Linked DNA regions of Homo sapiens. The protein of the gene in region 1 interacts with the protein of each later gene in a biochemical or structural test. Each region holds a gene or a part of one and is shown in the gene's direction. Other genes may lie near its edges. The genes, in order: RUNX3, DTX2, NOTCH1 and GLI1.

What was found.
Region 2: the proteins of RUNX3 (region 1) and DTX2 form a complex in vitro, tested with the Homo sapiens proteins (one study listed by BioGRID).
Region 3: the proteins of RUNX3 (region 1) and NOTCH1 form a complex in vitro, tested with the Homo sapiens proteins (one study listed by BioGRID).
Region 4: the proteins of RUNX3 (region 1) and GLI1 form a complex in vitro, tested with the Homo sapiens proteins (one study listed by BioGRID).

Annotation. Positions count from the first base shown.
Region 1 is NC_000001.11:24,923,134-24,927,882, reverse strand, and holds part of RUNX3 (runt-related transcription factor 3), read left to right. Parts: intron 1-152; coding exon 153-309; intron 310-4,749. UniProt on the Homo sapiens protein: Forms the heterodimeric complex core-binding factor (CBF) with CBFB.
Region 2 is NC_000007.14:76,466,998-76,471,746, forward strand, and holds part of DTX2 (probable E3 ubiquitin-protein ligase DTX2), read left to right. Parts: intron 1-3,022; exon of another isoform or gene 3,023-4,749. UniProt on the Homo sapiens protein: Regulator of Notch signaling, a signaling pathway involved in cell-cell communications that regulates a broad spectrum of cell-fate determinations.
Region 3 is NC_000009.12:136,504,546-136,509,294, reverse strand, and holds part of NOTCH1 (neurogenic locus notch homolog protein 1 preproprotein), read left to right. Parts: intron 1-223; coding exon 224-425; intron 426-909; coding exon 910-1,063; intron 1,064-1,155; coding exon 1,156-1,340; intron 1,341-1,857; coding exon 1,858-1,990; intron 1,991-2,321; coding exon 2,322-2,579; intron 2,580-2,655; coding exon 2,656-2,768; intron 2,769-3,413; coding exon 3,414-3,985; intron 3,986-4,190; coding exon 4,191-4,622; intron 4,623-4,749. UniProt on the Homo sapiens protein: Functions as a receptor for membrane-bound ligands Jagged-1 (JAG1), Jagged-2 (JAG2) and Delta-1 (DLL1) to regulate cell-fate determination.
Region 4 is NC_000012.12:57,465,351-57,470,099, forward strand, and holds part of GLI1 (zinc finger protein GLI1), read left to right. Parts: intron 1-256; coding exon 257-346; intron 347-437; coding exon 438-575; intron 576-889; coding exon 890-1,039; intron 1,040-1,982; coding exon 1,983-2,147; intron 2,148-2,643; coding exon 2,644-2,874; intron 2,875-4,080; coding exon 4,081-4,348; intron 4,349-4,749. UniProt on the Homo sapiens protein: Acts as a transcriptional activator. Binds to the DNA consensus sequence 5'-GACCACCCA-3'. Regulates the transcription of specific genes during normal development.

The DNA of each region.
Region 1 (4,749 bases):
TTTTTAAGCCTCTTCTCCACCCTGCATTGGAGAAATACTCAGTGTGCCTGGGACCTGGGGGAGCTGCCCAGCCCAGCCCCTCCCCTCCTTTCCCTGGTCACCCTCTTCCTTTCTAAGCTGTCCCCCTGCATCCCCCCGCCCCGTGTCTTCAGGTGGTGGCATTGGGGGACGTGCCGGATGGTACGGTGGTGACTGTGATGGCAGGCAATGACGAGAACTACTCCGCTGAGCTGCGCAATGCCTCGGCCGTCATGAAGAACCAGGTGGCCAGGTTCAACGACCTTCGCTTCGTGGGCCGCAGTGGGCGAGGTAAGTGGAAGGGAGGCCTCGCCATTTCAGCATTGGCAATGGCAGGGGCAGCAGGGAAGGAGGTTGAAAGAGGGGCCTTAGAATCCCGAAAAACAGGTCTCCAGATGCAGCTCTGTCTAAAAACAGCAATTTGTAATCCTGTAGGATATTACAGATCGCTTTGAGGAGGTGAGGAAAGTTATGGTCTCTTGCCAGAAAAAGACAATTTTCTCCCAGTTTCTAGGGTTTACCAACTCCTGAAACCGTTCATGCCACCCCCTCTTTCCCGGTTAAGCACACCTGGTCTCACAAAAAATGCTGGCAGGAGATGGTGGATTAACAAGCTCAAAAAGGGAGCTTATAGGTCTTTCAGCAAGGCGGTTGCAGGACAAGTCCCTGATCTGTGGGGCCCAAGCACCCCAGCCACTCTCTCCATAGGGGGCAGAATATCCCCCACACTCTGAGGCTGTCTCTCCAGCTGTGGTCTCCCAGACCCAGTTTCCCAGCGCCTTTGAGCCCTAGGTGGTCTAGAACGGAAGCTAACGCAGCTGAATGTTGGAAAGCACAGCTCGAAGGCTGCCATCTCCTGCCCCAGAGTCAAGGCGGGTGTGCCACCCTGCCTGTCTGACCGACCTTGAGCAGCAGAAGGAAGGCGGGACGGGGGTGGGGGGCTGTTGAATGGGAGGCTTCTGGGACCTGAAACCCATCATCACTTAACTCCTGGATGGGAAAGTCCTGGAAACCCTGCCCCTGTGGAACGGAGGCCTGAGGGTCCACTGGCCCTTTAAGACCAGCCTGCCTACGAGAAGTGGCTGAAGTGGGAGTCGCCCTTCCCAAGCACCAGGCCCGCCTCTAGCTTTGTTAAGAAGTAAGCTGGGTTCCCTCTGCTCCCCAACTCCACAGCAGGCTGAAGTGGCTGAAGCAGAACCGTGCTTTTCATCACCAATAAACAGGACCTTCTCAAGGTTCTAGTTCCCTCTGAGCTGCCAGCCCCGCTCTGAAACAGGCATCTGGGCACCATTTTTTCCTTTCCAGCCGTTCGATGTATACATACAAATGTCAGCCATATTTTGACTTTTCAGCATTAATTAAAACCAGGACATTATTTGCATGTAATAACTGTTTACTTGTTACTTTTTATGAAACTGAAATAGTTTACATTCTTTCAAACATTTCCTGTTCCTGTTGGCTCCCTTCCCCACACACAGATTTCTTTCAAACGGTGCCCTTAACTGGTTGCAGGTTGATGGATGGAAAATGTTTGCTTTTATGAATTAAGCTTTCATTGCTGCTCCTAATTAGTCTCCAAGTCCCTTTTGTCATCCCCAATCTCTCAAACCCTTTGCGACTTAATCCCAACCCTGAGAGGACAGTCACTGGTCCTTGGTCGGTGGCAGACAAGGCTGATGAGCTCTGCTGACTGCGGGGCAGTGGCCAGGTCTGCTAGCCCAGGTATGTGTCAGGAGCACTATAGCTGCTGCCTGTTGCGAGGCGGGCAGAAGGTGCTGTCGATCTGGGAGCCCAGCAAGGCATCAGGAACTTGATTCTCCCTTCCCACTCTCTCTCCTGGGAAGCGAGAGAAAGAGAAGAGACGACGATTTTCTGAGTTACCGAGACCTTGTCTGGCCATTCTGCACACTGAGAATGATTTTTTTAGGGGTTTTCATGCCCACAGACCTTGAGCCCCCCTCCCCAGGCCTGCAGGGAGGGAAATGGGTTTCCAAGGCGTTGGTTGGGAGCTTGTCCTTGTAGCAGGAATGGCCGAGGCTGGGACTGTGGCTCTGGGAGATGCAAGAGGCTGAGTTTATAAACCATTCTCTCATCCATCTCCTCTCAGAGGTCCATAACCAGTCTCAGTGGTCCTGGGAGGCAGGAAGTGATCTGAGGAGGAGTTCCGATGTCTGAGGAACTGTGGCTAAGGCGTTCAGCCTTCAGAGGCTCGAGGTCTTTGAGAGCCTGCATTCTAGTATCAGCCACCCTGCGTTTGAGTCCCAGCTCTGCTAATGACTTGCTGGATGACATTGGGCAAATGACTTAACCACTCTGTGCCTCAGTTTCCTCATCTGTGAGATGGGGATGATAATGGTACCTACCTCATGAGATTTTGGGAAGGTTAGGGAAATTGACACAAGTGTATCAGCTGGCGCATATTGAGAGCTGGATACATGTTAGAGATTTTGTTACTTCAAATGCCTGGGACTGGAGGAGGACTTTGAGGTCCCTTTGAGCGGTGACAGCCACTGATTCTCTGATTACTGTGTGGTTTGGGCGGGGGTGGGGGAAACCCAGAAGGTGTGAACTGCTGAGTGGGAGAGGTGGAGGCGGTTGGCAGGGAGGAAGGAGGGTGCCGGGTCCGCTGGCATGCAGACACACATCTGCAGTGCCCATCCTGCTGACTGGGAAATTCCCACCTGAGAGAACAGTCAGTGGTTGACAGTGACAATCTGGGCCACTTTAGGAGATGGGACACTTTGGGAGTTAAGACTGGGGGTTGGGACCCAGAACCCTTGCCTGGGTCTCTTGACTTCTGCCAGAACTAAGAAGTCTGATGGAAACCTCTGCTTGTTGCCTCAATTTTTAGTTCTACATTCTGTCTGAATTCCAGGAAGATGGCTTTCCATGAAAGACACGCACCCAGTAACACCACAGAGCTCTTAACAACAGGGCTGAAGGTGTGAACCAAGAAAAGGAAGGGAGGAAAACCAGGTCATTGCTGTCTCCTGCAGTGATTAGGGCTGAGGTCCCTGCCCTGCCAGACACGAGGAGCCTTTCTTACAATACATATTTTATATCAAGCCTTACTATTCTACGTTGAAATGTATAAATAATGAAACCTACCTATTTACATGCAGTTGCAAACTATGTTATTCCATAGCTATGATGGAGAAAAAAAGGGAAAGTAATTTATAATAAAACACTGATTTGAATATGTAAACGTTGGGGCCACAGGACTCCATGAGGTGGACGAATGCCCTCCATGCAGAAGCCCACAGCAGAGGGAACAGGCAGGGTGGCAGGGCTCAATCTGAACCTGGCCTTGCTGCCAATACCATGACTTTCTGAAGTTGTCAACACCTGTTGGCAAAGCGCTGAACAAAATTAAAAAAAAAAAAAGAACTGTCTTTCCTTCTGGAAAATTCAGTAGATATTAAAAGTACAAAAAAAACCCTTGTTTTATGTAAAACTGAGTTAGGTTCATGACTCAGATAATTTTTTTTTCTTTTACTTTTTTTTGGGACAAGGTCTCGCTCTGTCGCCCAGGCCAGGGTGCAGTGGTGCGATCACTGCAGTCTCAACCTCCTGGTCTCAAGCAGTCCTCCCACCTCAATAGCTGGGACTATAGGCATGCGCCACCATGCTCAGCTGATTTTTTAAAATTATTTGTTGTAGAGATGGGGGTGTTGTTCACTGTGTTGCTCAGGCTGGTCTTGAACTCCTGGACTCAAGCGATCCTCCTGCCTCAGCCTCTCAAAGTGTTGGGATTACAGGCATGAGCCACTGCGACCAGCCAGAGAACTTTTATAAGCAAGTTTTTCCCTCCCAGGAAGAATTGAATCTTCACCACCCTGGGCAGCGTTGGGTGCTGGCATCCCCCACCACATACACGCACCCCACCCCTAACGCTGGCAGTGCCACCCCAACACTATGTTGACCACACGCCACCACAAATCCCAAAAATGCCCCTCTAGCAGGCGGCCACTGGCCTAAGTGAAAATGAAAAGCACATGAGCTCTCGAGCTGTGATCAACTGGTTAAAAAGCAACTGTGTGTCGACAGAGATTCGGGGTGCAGTGTGCCGGTGCAGGCTGAGGGGAACCGCTGGTTGGGGGAGAGATGAATGGCTTCTTGGCTGAAGCTGAGAAAACCCCGAGGTCCCCTGAGACTGAGACACGTCCCCTCCCCCCACCCATGCAGCTCCTGTGGGTGGGGCGGGGACCTTATACACATAGGAACCCAGGCAGAGAATGCTCAAGGACTTGCCTGAGGCCCTGCTGCCACCCCGGCTGGTTGATGATGGGTCCTGGAGGAGTTTCTGGAGCCCTAAAGGAAACCCATTTCCCAGACCAAGACTTCTCCCCTGCAACCAGGGCCAGCCCTCAGAGAGCCTGGGTTTACACTTCCTGGGCTCCTGATGGATTGCAGGTTTGCCTGGGACTCCTGCACAGAGTTATATCTAGAGGCTGAGAGAGAGGGATGGATGGGTTTGCCACTGCCAGGCAGAGAGAGAGCTGGGCAGGGCCGGGGTAGCTGAGGGGCACTCAGGGAGACAGCTTTCTCCCACCCCTGCTCCCCAGGCTCCCTGTCTCCCGAGGTCCAGGACTCCTGCCCCTCCCTCTCACTCCTCCTCTTAGGCCCCACACTCCTCTCCTTTGTACCTGGGAGGGGTGGTGACAGGCGTGGAAGCTGGTGGAAGCGGCCGAGGAGTGCTGGTGACCTCAGGGGTGGCATGTGGTTTGCTAC
Region 2 (4,749 bases), on another chromosome or scaffold:
TCAATGGATCCATCCCCTTCAGCCTCCTGAATAGCTGGGACTACAGGCACAGGCTACCATGCTTAGCTAATTTTTAAAGTTTGTGCAGAGGCAGCTTCACTGTGTTGCCCAGGCTGGTCTTGAACTCCTGGGCTCAAGCAATTCACCCGCCTTGGCCTCCCAAAGTGCTGGGATGATAGACATGAGCCACCATGCTCGGCAGTGTTCATCTTTCGTAGCTATTGCTAGACCATTTCCTGAATGTAGTGCTTATACCAGTATCCACTTTACCAGCAGTGTCCTGTGTCTTGCAGCTCCACAGTCTTACCAACATTTGCTGTTGGCCAAGTGAATGGGTAGAAAATGGAATCTTTGGGAACTTGGTTTCTAGGTCCCTGAGCCCTGCTGCTGAATATCTCCTCTTATGTTTATTGGCATATGTGTTTCCTGTGAAATATTCATGTCTTTTGCCAGTTTTTCATTAGGGTTCTTGGTGCTTTATTTTTTGTTGATCTATAGGGCTCTTTATATATTGCTGATTTTAATCCTTCGTGTCTATTGCAAATATCTTCTCCCAGCTTTTAACCTATTATTCCTCTTTCTTTAAGGTGTCTTCTGTTGATCAGCCATTCTTCATTTTAACATAGCGAAATGTATTTTTTCCCTAGTACTCAGTTTTCTGGGTCTGGTTTGAAGTCTTTTCCTGAACATAACCCTTGCCTTTAAGGAGCGTATGCATTCTCCAGTGGAGGAGACAGATAATGGCACTGAGACGTCATGTGGGCATTGATTGTTAGAAGTGGCCACTTCTGCCTGTGGAGCGGGAGCGAACTTAGGAAAGATCTCACAGGGCAGAGTCTTGAGCTAGGAATTAAGAGATGAGTAAGTGGACAAGTGCGATGGGCATTCTCAGTGGGGGACGAAGGGCATGAAACATCCTGACCTGCCCTGGGCACTGCCAGGAGGTCCAGATGGCAGGAGCTGACGGTTTGAGGGGCTCGGGCAGGGCATCCCGAGGACAGCTTTGGGTGATCTGTATGCAAGGGAATATTGAAGCCATGGGAACAGATCCTGAGGATCCGGGGGGAATGGAGAGAGGAGGGGAGGAGGGGAGAGGGAGGCCAGGGCCTGATTCCCGGATGCAGAGAATGTTATCAACGCCCGGTGTGGCTCTGGGGAGCACCTGGGGCTTCCCAGGGGCGGGTGCTGTTGGCATGCTGCCTGCTGTGCTGTTGGATGCTGTATTTCACCCTTAGGTGTTGGGCAAAGGCTGACATGTCTGCAGAGGGCAGGGCGTGTTGTTGGCAAAGCTAGCCAGAGGCAGAGCACTCTCTCACTTTTTGATAGAGACATGAGTTCAGAGAAGTATTGCTCAACTGTAGGAGTGTGAAAGTACAGTAATAGATGTGAGGGAGGCCACAGGGCAGAGGTCTGCAAACGATGGACCCTCAGCCAAATCTGGCCCACTGCCATTTTTTTTTTTTTTTTTTTTTTTTTTTTGAGATGGAGTCTCACTCTGTTGCCAGGCTGGAGTGCAATGGCACGATCTCAGCTCACTGCAGCCTCCGCCTCCCAGGTTCAAGAAATTCTCCTGCCTCAGCCTCCTGAGTAGCTGGGATTACAGGCACCAGCCACCATGCCTGGCTAATTTTTGTATTTTTAGTAGAGACAAGGTTTCACCATGTTGGCCAGGCTGGTCTCGAACTCCTGACCTCAGGTGATCCACCCCCGCTTGGCCTCCCAAAGTGCTGGGATTATAGGCGTGAGCCACCACGCCCAGCATTTTTTTTTTTTTTTTTTTTTTGAGGCAGGGTCTAACTCTGTTGCCCAGGCTGGAGTACAGTGGCACAGTCTCGGCTCACTGCAGCCTCCGCCTCCTGGGTTCAAGTGATTCTCCTGCCCCAGCCTCCCAAGTAGCTGGGACTACAGGTGCACGCCACTACGCCTGGCTCATCTTTGTATTTTTTTGGTAGATACGGGGTTTCACTGTATTGGCCAGGCTGGTCTCAAACTCCTGGCCTCAAATGATCCACCCACCTCAGCCTCCCGAAGTGCTGGGATTACAGGCGTGAGCTACCGCATTCAGCCCCACTGCCTGATTTTGTTCATAAAGTTATATTGGTATGCAACCCCTCCTGTTTACACATTGTTTATGGTTGTTCTTGTGGTCTAGTGGCAGAGTCACTGCAAAGACTTTTTCTGTCCTTTACAGGAAAAGCATGCTGGCCCTAGCCATAGGGAGTCATGGTAGCTGTGGCCACCCAGAGAGGACGTTCCAGCCACCATTGCAGTTTAGCTGGTGTTGCTAGGTAGATCATGGATCTAGGTCCAGCCTGCAAATATTGCCATCTTTCCTGATTTTCAAGGGAAGCTTGAAATCTAGATTTTTTTTTTTTTTTTTTTTACTGTGAATATTCCTTTTTTTTTTTTTTTTGAGACGGATTCTCATTCTGTCGCCCAAGCTGGAGTGCAGTGGCATAATCTTGGCTCACTGCAACCTCCACTTCTTAGGTTCAAGCAATTCTCCTGCCTCAGCCTCCCGAGTAACTGGGACTACAGGCGCTCGCCACCACACTTGGCTAATTTTTTGTATTTTTTAGTAGAGACAGGGTTTCACTGCATTAGCCAGGATGGTCTCGCTCTCCTGACCTCATGATCTGCCTGCCTCGGCCTCCCAAAGTGCTGGGATTACAGGTGTGAGCCACTGAGCCCGGCCAAATATTCCAATTTTTAAACATCAGCTCAGTTTTTAAAAGCCAAACCTTAGTAACCCAAGCAAAACACATCTACAGGCCAGTTTGTCCGTCGTCAGTCTGTCTTGGTGGGAAAGACAGGAACTCTGGAAACAGATTTGGGTTTTCTCAGTCCCTGGATATCCTTGGGCAAGCTGCATGTCTTCTGGTGACTCACTTTTCTCAGTTGTGGTATGGAAATATCCCGCTTCCCCAGTTGTGAGGACCAACGAGAATTACTAGTCAGGTGGAGGGGCTTAGCACGGTGCCTGGTGCCTGGTAAACCTTTACCTGGTAGCCATTGCTGTTATTCATTTATTTATTTATTTTACACAATAATTTACTTATTGAGAGCCTTCTCTCCCCGCCCTTGCAGTCTCTAGGTCACTTTTTCCACTTGTAGATTTTGTGCACAAGCCCCAGAAAGATGGCTGGGGGCAGGGGCTCTGCGTACTATTCGATGAGACCCATAACGTGGCTGTAACTGTCTTTCTCATACTGCAAGAACACGGCTGGCAGATCCAGCTCCTCGTATAGTGCCTTCACCCGGGCCACCTTCTCGGCCTCCTTCTGCCTGTAATTTTCCTTCAGGATCTGGTACTGTTCTGGAGTGGCCTGTAGCAGACACTGAACCACCAGCCAGCTGCATTTGTTGTCCTGGAAGTCATTGCCAACTCTGCCAGTCACACTGGGGTCCCCAGAGAAGTCAAGGTAATCATCCTGAATCTGAAAGAACTCTTGAATCTCCAGCAGGATCTTCTTGGCACTGGTGTGCTCCTTCTTGTCATCCATTCTTGACATGTACATGGCTGCAGCTACAGGAAGGTAGAAGGAGTAGAAAGCTGTCTTGTACTTGACAACAGATTTGTGCCTTTTTTCGGTGCATCTGCGAAGATCCACATTGCCCTGGGGGGTTGTGATGAGGTCGAGGGTCTGCCCAATCTCAGTCTGATAAGAATTCTGCTGGAAGAGCTCCATCAGGTTCAGGTAATAGGGCTGCTCCCGGCAATACAGCTTCAGCAGGCAGTAGATACATGCTTCCAGAAGGATAGCATCATTGATGGCATCCAAACCCATGCCCAGCTTCTGATACCAGGAGATCTGTCCCTGGCAGGTAAGGGATGAATCCATAATGTCATCTGCCACCAGGAAGAAAGCTTGCAGCAGTTGCGCATACCAGCCCACAGTCGGTGCCCACTGGAGACTATCAGCATCCAGTTTCCTCGGCTCCACCAGCTCCCGGAACGCTACTAGCACCATCAAACCTCGGTGATACTTGCCTCCAATGGCATTGTACTCCAGGACCTCCTTGAGCCGGGCAGTAGCATCTCCTGTCTCTGGGTGCCCCATCTCATCCTCAGTCAGCACCCTAACGATCTGGGAGTAGTGCTGAACGAAATCCTGCTTTGCTTGGGCATAAATATCTGATTTCTGGTTTCCATTCGTTCTTTTTTTTTTTTTTTTTTTTTTTGAGACGGAGTCTTGCTCTGTCGCCCAGGCTGGAGTGCAGTGGCGCGATCTTGGCTCACTGCAAACTCCACTTCCTGGGTTCACGCCATTCTCCTGCCTCAGCCTCCCTAGTAGCCGGGACTACAGGCACCCGCCACCGCGCCCGGCTAATTTTTTGTATTTTTAGTAGAGACAGGGTTTCACCATGTTAGCCACGATGGTCTCGATCTCCTGACCTCGTGATCCGCCCGCCTTGGCCTCCCAAAGTGCTGGGATTACAGGTGTGAGCCACCGCGCCCAGCCTGGTTTCCATTCATTCTGAGGGAGGAGCAAAGGGCTGTGTTCCTGGATGCGGGTTCCTGCTTGGCTGTTATTTATTTTTTTTTAAAGAGACAGGGTCTCGCTCTGTTGCCCAGGTTGGAGTGTAGTGGCACGATCATAGCTCACTGCAACTTTGAACCCCTGGGCTCAAAGCAGTCCTTCTGCCTCAGCCAGTCAAAGTGCTGGGATCACAAGGTGTGAGCCACTGCACCAGGCCTGCTATTACTGTTACCATTACACATCCACTGCTGCCCCTATTACTCCCCTA
Region 3 (4,749 bases), on another chromosome or scaffold:
CCTGACTTATAAAGAAAGCAGGGGAGGGAGGTGTGACGTGGTGTGAGAGCCGGGCCCCGGGTTCCCACTGGCCTCCCTGGGTCAGCCAGGCTGCCCTGGGCCTGTCCTGGCCATCAGGCCCCTAGGGTTGAGCAGAAGGGGAGGTGCTGGCGAGGCAGAATCTGCTGGAGCGGGGACCCACCAATGCCCTCCACTCAGCCCCCGCCTGCCCACCCCCTTGCAGCTCCTGCTTCAACGGTGGCACCTGCGTGGACGGCATCAACTCGTTCACCTGCCTGTGTCCACCCGGCTTCACGGGCAGCTACTGCCAGCACGATGTCAATGAGTGCGACTCACAGCCCTGCCTGCATGGCGGCACCTGTCAGGACGGCTGCGGCTCCTACAGGTGCACCTGCCCCCAGGGCTACACTGGCCCCAACTGCCAGGTGAGTGCGCCGGCCACAGAGGTGCCCGAAGGAGGGGCCCTGGGTGGGTGCCTACCTGCGGGAGGTGGGAACGGTCACCCCAGGTCCCACTGTGTCGGCTCGGGGTCACCCCCACACCCCCGGGCAGAGGGTTTCTGGGGATCTGAGCAGCCGGTGAAGGAACCTGATGCGGAAGCAGCAGGCACCTTCGTTTCAATCCCAGGTTTCTGGAGCCGGGGCAGGAGCTCAGGAATTGGGGAATTGAGGAAAAGTGTTCCTTCTAGCAAAGGCCGAGGGTGGTCTGGACCTGCTGAGGGCCCTGAGGGAGACCCAGCCCAGGCTGTTCCTGGTGTGGGGGTGGTGGGGAGTCCAGGGGCGGCAGTTTCCACTTCTGTAGAATGGGTTGCAGCCTGGGTTGGAGTAGGCCCCTTGGCAGATGTGCGTTCTGAGCTACCGGGGAAATGGCCGGGGCGCGGGCACCCAGCTGACCCCAATCTGTCCCCAGAACCTTGTGCACTGGTGTGACTCCTCGCCCTGCAAGAACGGCGGCAAATGCTGGCAGACCCACACCCAGTACCGCTGCGAGTGCCCCAGCGGCTGGACCGGCCTTTACTGCGACGTGCCCAGCGTGTCCTGTGAGGTGGCTGCGCAGCGACAAGGTAACCTGCTGTGCCCACCCAGCTCGGGTCCCAGCCCATCAAGGTCCTCTGTGGGCCTGGGCCTCACCTGTCTACCACCCCATCCCCCGCAGGTGTTGACGTTGCCCGCCTGTGCCAGCATGGAGGGCTCTGTGTGGACGCGGGCAACACGCACCACTGCCGCTGCCAGGCGGGCTACACAGGCAGCTACTGTGAGGACCTGGTGGACGAGTGCTCACCCAGCCCCTGCCAGAACGGGGCCACCTGCACGGACTACCTGGGCGGCTACTCCTGCAAGGTGGGGGTCCCTCCTAGGGTAAGGGTTGTGGCCGGCACGAGTGTTGCCACACACCAGGCCCTGGCTGGGAGCTGGCCCAGTGGAGAAAACTGAACCTGATAGGCCCATGCACTGTTCAGTCTCATTAGGGGAGGGCTGGGGTAATCAGGGTAGACTGCCTGGAAGAGGTGGCCTGTGGAAAGCCTGAAGGAGGGTACCTATACTGAGAAGTGGGATGGGGTTTTCCCTTCCCCTAGATTGTGTCTGGGCTTGGCCAACACCTACCCTGAGGCCCTCACCTCTATCCTATGGGACGGGGTCCACCCACCCCCAACAGGCAGTGACTCCGGTCACCGAGGCCCCGCCAGGGTCTGTTGGGCTGGGTCTCTCTCCAGGTCTGACAGGAGCGAGGGGCCCGTGGCTTCGCTGGACCTGAGGGCAGCTCATGTGGCCCTGTCAGCCCTCACAGTGGGGTGTGGGAGCACTGCATCCTGGCGCCGGCTGAGCCGAAGGGCCCCTCGTTCTGTCGCCTGCACAGTGCGTGGCCGGCTACCACGGGGTGAACTGCTCTGAGGAGATCGACGAGTGCCTCTCCCACCCCTGCCAGAACGGGGGCACCTGCCTCGACCTCCCCAACACCTACAAGTGCTCCTGCCCACGGGGCACTCAGGGTAAGGGCCGCTGCACGGAGGGCTGGTGTTGGCCATCCATGGCCAGGGCAGGGGCAGGGCAGGCACCCCGGGACCGGCCAGAGGCATCCAGGAACCAGCCAGAAACTCCCATTTTCCTGTGTGAGGCCAAGGCCGACTCACAGCTGCCCAGGGAAAGGGCCCAGAGCGGGGGTCCCAGTGGGAAGGGCGTCTCCACGGCACCCTTGACACCTGCCTCTCCCGAGTGTCCGTGCAGCCCCAGACCTGAGCGCTCGTCTTCCGGGACGGACACGCGGCACGGCAGGGCCGGGGTGTGGCGGGCTTGGGCCACTGACGAAACCTGGCCCCGCAGGTGTGCACTGTGAGATCAACGTGGACGACTGCAATCCCCCCGTTGACCCCGTGTCCCGGAGCCCCAAGTGCTTTAACAACGGCACCTGCGTGGACCAGGTGGGCGGCTACAGCTGCACCTGCCCGCCGGGCTTCGTGGGTGAGCGCTGTGAGGGGGATGTCAACGAGTGCCTGTCCAATCCCTGCGACGCCCGTGGCACCCAGAACTGCGTGCAGCGCGTCAATGACTTCCACTGCGAGTGCCGTGCTGGTCACACCGGTGGGTGCCGCGCCCAGGCGGGTGGGGCGTGTGGGGCAGCAGGGTGAGCCTCTCACTGCCCTGCTCTTACCCCTAGGGCGCCGCTGCGAGTCCGTCATCAATGGCTGCAAAGGCAAGCCCTGCAAGAATGGGGGCACCTGCGCCGTGGCCTCCAACACCGCCCGCGGGTTCATCTGCAAGTGCCCTGCGGTAGGTGCAGGGGTGCAGGGAGGCAGGGGCCCGCCAGGGGAGACACCTGGAGAGGTCCACGTGGGGGCCTCGGGGCGCAGACCGGGCAGTGATCCTCCCGGCCTTCATCCTCCTCCTCACCCTGATGTCTTTTTTTTTTTTTTAGTTTCAATAAATGATTTTAGAGACATTTTAGATTTATAGAAAAATGGAGCAGGAAGTAGACTCCCTGGGGTGGCTGTCCCCTGCACGCAGTTCCCCTGGTTAGCAGCTTGCATCAATTTCACTCTGGATTTCAGTGATACATTGTTACCAACAGCAGCCCTTCCTGTACCTGGGGCTTGCCCTTGGCTTTGTGGTTGTGGGTTTGGGCTGAGGTATGACATGCCTGCCCACCCTCGCAGGATCACGGCAGAGAGTCCCTGCCCTAAAGTCCTCAGCACTCCACCAGTTTACCCCTTCCTCCATCTCCCGACCCCCTGGCACCCCCGATCTTTCTCTGTTGGTAGAATGTGTGTAAAGGGTTTTGCTGCTGGGGGCAAGGTTGCAGGCCGCCTCCCAGGTTAGAGGAGAGCGGTGGCACTGCTGGCCGAGGGCTGGGTGTGAGGTGGCGGGGGGGCGGGGGGTGGCCCACCCCGACACCGTCCTGTCTTCCCTCTCGGGCAGGGCTTCGAGGGCGCCACGTGTGAGAATGACGCTCGTACCTGCGGCAGCCTGCGCTGCCTCAACGGCGGCACATGCATCTCCGGCCCGCGCAGCCCCACCTGCCTGTGCCTGGGCCCCTTCACGGGCCCCGAATGCCAGTTCCCGGCCAGCAGCCCCTGCCTGGGCGGCAACCCCTGCTACAACCAGGGGACCTGTGAGCCCACATCCGAGAGCCCCTTCTACCGTTGCCTGTGCCCCGCCAAATTCAACGGGCTCTTGTGCCACATCCTGGACTACAGCTTCGGGGGTGGGGCCGGGCGCGACATCCCCCCGCCGCTGATCGAGGAGGCGTGCGAGCTGCCCGAGTGCCAGGAGGACGCGGGCAACAAGGTCTGCAGCCTGCAGTGCAACAACCACGCGTGCGGCTGGGACGGCGGTGACTGCTCCCTCAACTTCAATGACCCCTGGAAGAACTGCACGCAGTCTCTGCAGTGCTGGAAGTACTTCAGTGACGGCCACTGTGACAGCCAGTGCAACTCAGCCGGCTGCCTCTTCGACGGCTTTGACTGCCAGCGTGCGGAAGGCCAGTGCAAGTAAGGCTGCGGGGCTCATGGGGCTGAGGGAGGACCTGAACTTGGATGTGGCCTGGCTTGGGCCCGGAGGCCAGCATGCAGTTCTAAGGCTCTGCTCAGGGGGTGCAGGGACGTCCCCCGCGGCTGGCCAGTGGGCTGGAGGCACCGGACGGCGGGTGCGAGGCCCCCCGAGGAAGGCGGCCTGAGCGTGTCCCGCCCCCCACAGCCCCCTGTACGACCAGTACTGCAAGGACCACTTCAGCGACGGGCACTGCGACCAGGGCTGCAACAGCGCGGAGTGCGAGTGGGACGGGCTGGACTGTGCGGAGCATGTACCCGAGAGGCTGGCGGCCGGCACGCTGGTGGTGGTGGTGCTGATGCCGCCGGAGCAGCTGCGCAACAGCTCCTTCCACTTCCTGCGGGAGCTCAGCCGCGTGCTGCACACCAACGTGGTCTTCAAGCGTGACGCACACGGCCAGCAGATGATCTTCCCCTACTACGGCCGCGAGGAGGAGCTGCGCAAGCACCCCATCAAGCGTGCCGCCGAGGGCTGGGCCGCACCTGACGCCCTGCTGGGCCAGGTGAAGGCCTCGCTGCTCCCTGGTGGCAGCGAGGGTGGGCGGCGGCGGAGGGAGCTGGACCCCATGGACGTCCGCGGGTGAGTGAGACCCGGCGCCCACGGTCAATCCCCGCAACTCTCCTGGGCCCTCCCCGACGGCCTCCCTGCCCCTCACGGCCGGCGCCATGGCAAGCAGTACTCTCCCCACTTTATGGTAAAAGAGACG
Region 4 (4,749 bases), on another chromosome or scaffold:
AAGTTTTCAGTACTAGAAAAGTAAAGAGGTGTGGGTGCTGGGGTTCACTCCTTGCAGTTGAGTCAGACGCTTCCAAATGGGATCCCACCTTTTGCCCATCCCATTCACCAGTGTAGTCTGAGGAGGAAGTCCCTTCCAAACCCAGGAGGTTCCAGCTGCTTGGGTGGGGGCACTTAGGGCAGGAAGACCTGGCTTGGTTTCCTCTTCCTTCTGCTTACTTCCACCCTCATCACCGTCACCTCTTCCCCTGGGGAAGCTGAAGTCTGAGCTGGACATGCTGGTTGGCAAGTGCCGGGAGGAACCCTTGGAAGGTGATATGTCCAGCCCCAACTCCACAGGCATACAGGTAAGGGGATGGGCAGGAGCTTTACCTCTGGGACCTGAGCAAAACTAAAGCTGTCACCCAAGTGACCCTGAGATTGCCTCTCTTGCCCTAGGATCCCCTGTTGGGGATGCTGGATGGGCGGGAGGACCTCGAGAGAGAGGAGAAGCGTGAGCCTGAATCTGTGTATGAAACTGACTGCCGTTGGGATGGCTGCAGCCAGGAATTTGACTCCCAAGAGCAGCTGGTGCACGTGAGCCCCAGGGGGTAACAGGAATGGCTAGCCAGAACCTTTAGGAGATTCTGAGTGGGACATGGTGGAATCCGGCTGAGGGCAGGAGGTCAGAGGAGACTGAGGTTGAATGCTCAGTTGGGTAGGCAGAAGCTCAGAAGTTGTAGCTTTGCCTTAGGGAGCTGGAAGACCTGAGATGTGAGATATGATATTGCTCCTGCCTCTTCCTCCTTGAGGTGGAGTCGTGGAAGAGGAACAGGGGGTGGAGGGAAGGTCTGTTCTGGACCTCAGGGTCATGGGAGAGCCTTGGAGAGCCTTTGTATCTTCTCCCTCAGCACATCAACAGCGAGCACATCCACGGGGAGCGGAAGGAGTTCGTGTGCCACTGGGGGGGCTGCTCCAGGGAGCTGAGGCCCTTCAAAGCCCAGTACATGCTGGTGGTTCACATGCGCAGACACACTGGCGAGAAGCCACACAAGTGCACGGTGAGGCACCAGTGTCCCAAGTCCAGGGTCTCTTCCTAAATCAGGGCTCTCCTTCAAGGTAGGGCCCAAGGCAGACTTTTGCTTTTATAAGTCCTTTCTTCCATAAACAAATATTAAAAATAATGTTTGTGTGACTGTGTTGGCATAAAGATGAATATGATGATATATATTAAAACACTCTTGGACCTAAAAGCTCATTTTTTTCCCCTTGATTTTAAAAGACATTAAAACAGGCCAGGCACGGTGGCTCACACCTGTAATCCCAGCACTTTGGGAGGCTGAGCCAGGCAGATCACAAGGTCAGGAGTTCGAGACCAGCTTGGCCAATATTGGTGAAACCCTGTCTCTACTAAAAAATATAAAAATTAGCTGGGCGTGGTGATGGGCGCCTGTAGTCCCTGCTACTTGGGAGGATGAGGCAGAAGAATCACTTGAACCAAGGAGGTGGAGGTTGCAGTGAGCTGAGATGGCGCCACTGCACTCCAGCCTGGGCGACAGAGCAAAACTCCGCCTCAAAAAAAAAATTTTTTTTAAAAAAGACATTAAAACATGTTCGTGGGCCTCTTAAAGTATTGTTGGCCTTCAGTACTGTGCCTACTACTCTGCCTAATGGATAAACCCTGCATCAAGGACAACAGCCCGTTCCCCCAAGATGACCCCATCTTGGGACAGCCTAAGATCCCCATGCAGAGAAATCTGCCCTGGCTTGGTCAGAAGATGCTCTAGCATCTTTATATTCCCAAAGGGAGAGTGCCTCCAACTGCTTCCCTTCTCCAAGTTCTTGCCTGCCCTTGTCCCCTAGTTTTGGGAATTCTCTCGAAGCCCCAGTGCCTTTCATCTTGAGTTATATTCTCTGATGTGTGTCCTGTTGGAGATTGAGGGTTCCTTCCATCTCCATGTCCTCTGTCTGAGAACTATCCTTTGACCCCTGCATGTCCCCCAGTTTGAAGGGTGCCGGAAGTCATACTCACGCCTCGAAAACCTGAAGACGCACCTGCGGTCACACACGGGTGAGAAGCCATACATGTGTGAGCACGAGGGCTGCAGTAAAGCCTTCAGCAATGCCAGTGACCGAGCCAAGCACCAGAATCGGACCCATTCCAATGAGGTGAATGCCCTAACTAAGCGACCCTCCCCTCTTGAGAAGCCACCTACCAGGGAGATTCCCCCATAAGAAATCCCTTAGCCCAGCACCCACTCCACAGAGGTGAGTCCCCCTCCCCACATAATTCGCCCAGAAAAGGCTTTTCTGAAACCCAGAATTTCCACTTAACCACTCCTCCTCCTACCTCTAACCTCTAACCAGCCAAAAGGCTAACCTAAAAGATTCCATCTAGAGGAGACCCCTGATCCCTCCAACCCCTGGATTTATGGGACCTCACAGCCCTGGGTTCACCCCCTCATCTTTCCCAGGCTGTCAGTTTTCCTAACCCTCCACTTAATCTCTGCATCTTTGACTCCCACCGGAGGCCTCCATCCTCCTTACTTCCTTTGGTGCTGTGTGCTCCTCCCCTGCCCCCTGTGTTGTCACCACTTTTTCCCATTTCTTCTGCATTCTTCCGCTTTGATCCGTTTGCCTTCTGTCTCCACTCTCCACTCAACAGAAGCCGTATGTATGTAAGCTCCCTGGCTGCACCAAACGCTATACAGATCCTAGCTCGCTGCGAAAACATGTCAAGACAGTGCATGGTCCTGACGCCCATGTGACCAAACGGCACCGTGGGGATGGCCCCCTGCCTCGGGCACCATCCATTTCTACAGTGGAGCCCAAGAGGGAGCGGGAAGGAGGTCCCATCAGGGAGGAAAGCAGACTGACTGTGCCAGAGGGTGCCATGGTGAGAGAGCCCAGGCAACCCTCACCTCCATACCCCAGCCCACCCTGTGGACATCTTTCTAGTTACTTCCCAACCCATCCATTCCCTCCTATAGAAGTCACTCTTCTGTGACCAGTCTGCCTGTCTCTTGTCTTAGTGTTGCTCTTTGGGCTTCCCCAAATCTAGAGGTTTTAGAATCTTTCTGTCTCACTCTCTCACTCTCTTTCTCTCTCTCCTTCCTTCCTTCTTTCCTTCTTTCCTTTCTTCCTTTCTTTCTTTCTCTCTCTCTCTCTTTCTCTCTTTCTTTCTGACAGAGTCTTGCTCTGTCGCCCAGGCTGGAGTGTAGTGGCATAATCATAGCTCACTGCAGCCTCAAACTTCTGGGCTCAAGTGATCACTACAGGCACACCCCATCATGCCTGGCTAATTTTTCTTCTTTTTAGAGATCGAGTCTTGCTATGTTGACCAGGCTGGTCTCAAACTCCTGGCCTTGAGCGATCCTCCCACCTCAGCTTCCCACAGTGCTGGGATGAGCCAATGCATCCAACCCAAACTCTTTCTTTTTTTTTCAGACGGAGTCTCGCTCTGTTGCCCAGGCTGGAGTGCAGTGGCATGATCTCGGCTCACTGCAACCTCCGCCTCCCAGGTTCACGCCATTCTGCCTCAGCCTCCTGAGTAGCTGGGACTACAGGCGCCTGCCACCACGCCGGGCTAATTTTTTTGTATTTTTAGTAGACATGGGGTTTCACTGTGTTAACCAGGGTGGTCTTGATCTCCTGACCTCGTGATCTGCCCACCTCGGCCTCCCAAAGTGCTGGGATTACAGGCGTGAGCCACTGCACCCGGCAACTCTTTCTTAAATAGCACTTAGTATATGTTCCAAGCCTTTTACATGTATAATTTCATGTACTCCTCACAGCAACTTCATGATAAAGGGACTCACTGTTCCCATTTTCAGTTGAAGAAACTCAGGCATAGAGAAATAGCCCAAGGTCATAGAACTAAGAGCAAGAATTTGAGTCCAGCCAGTCCGTGCTCCAGCCTAGGTTCTTCTCATCAAACGTCTCACATTCAGTTTGCTCCCCCATCTCTTACCTGCTTAGCCCTTTCTACACTTACAAGCTTCCTTGGAACCCCAGCAGTCACTGGGACACAGGCTTCAGCCACTCATCAAGTTGAAGGAGCTGTGGGGAAGGGTGTTGCCCTCAGACCTCATCTTCTCCACAGAAGCCACAGCCAAGCCCTGGGGCCCAGTCATCCTGCAGCAGTGACCACTCCCCGGCAGGGAGTGCAGCCAATACAGACAGTGGTGTGGAAATGACTGGCAATGCAGGGGGCAGCACTGAAGACCTCTCCAGCTTGGACGAGGGACCTTGCATTGCTGGCACTGGTCTGTCCACTCTTCGCCGCCTTGAGAACCTCAGGCTGGACCAGCTACATCAACTCCGGCCAATAGGGACCCGGGGTCTCAAACTGCCCAGCTTGTCCCACACCGGTGAGACCTGGGTGTGGGAGGTGTGGCTGGGGTGAGATCTGGACCTGCCCTGAGGTTGAGAGGAGGAAGTCACCCTTGAGGGCTGTCACACAGCACTTTTGTATAATTAGAAAATGGTGTCCTTCCTCAAGACACTTTCCATTTATCAGAAAATAGTTGTGATGTACAAACATGCAAAGGCTAGCCAGGCATGGTGGTGGGCACCTGTAATCCCAGCTACTCAGGAAGCTGAAGCAGGAGAATTGCTTGAACCTGGGAGGCAGAGGTTGCAGTGAGCTGAGATTGCGCCATTGCACTCCAACTTGAGCAACAAGAGCGAAACTCTGTTTCAAACAAAACAAAACAAAACAAACAAACAAACAAGTATGCAAAGGCTATGATGCGAATGCTGTTCCCTAGGA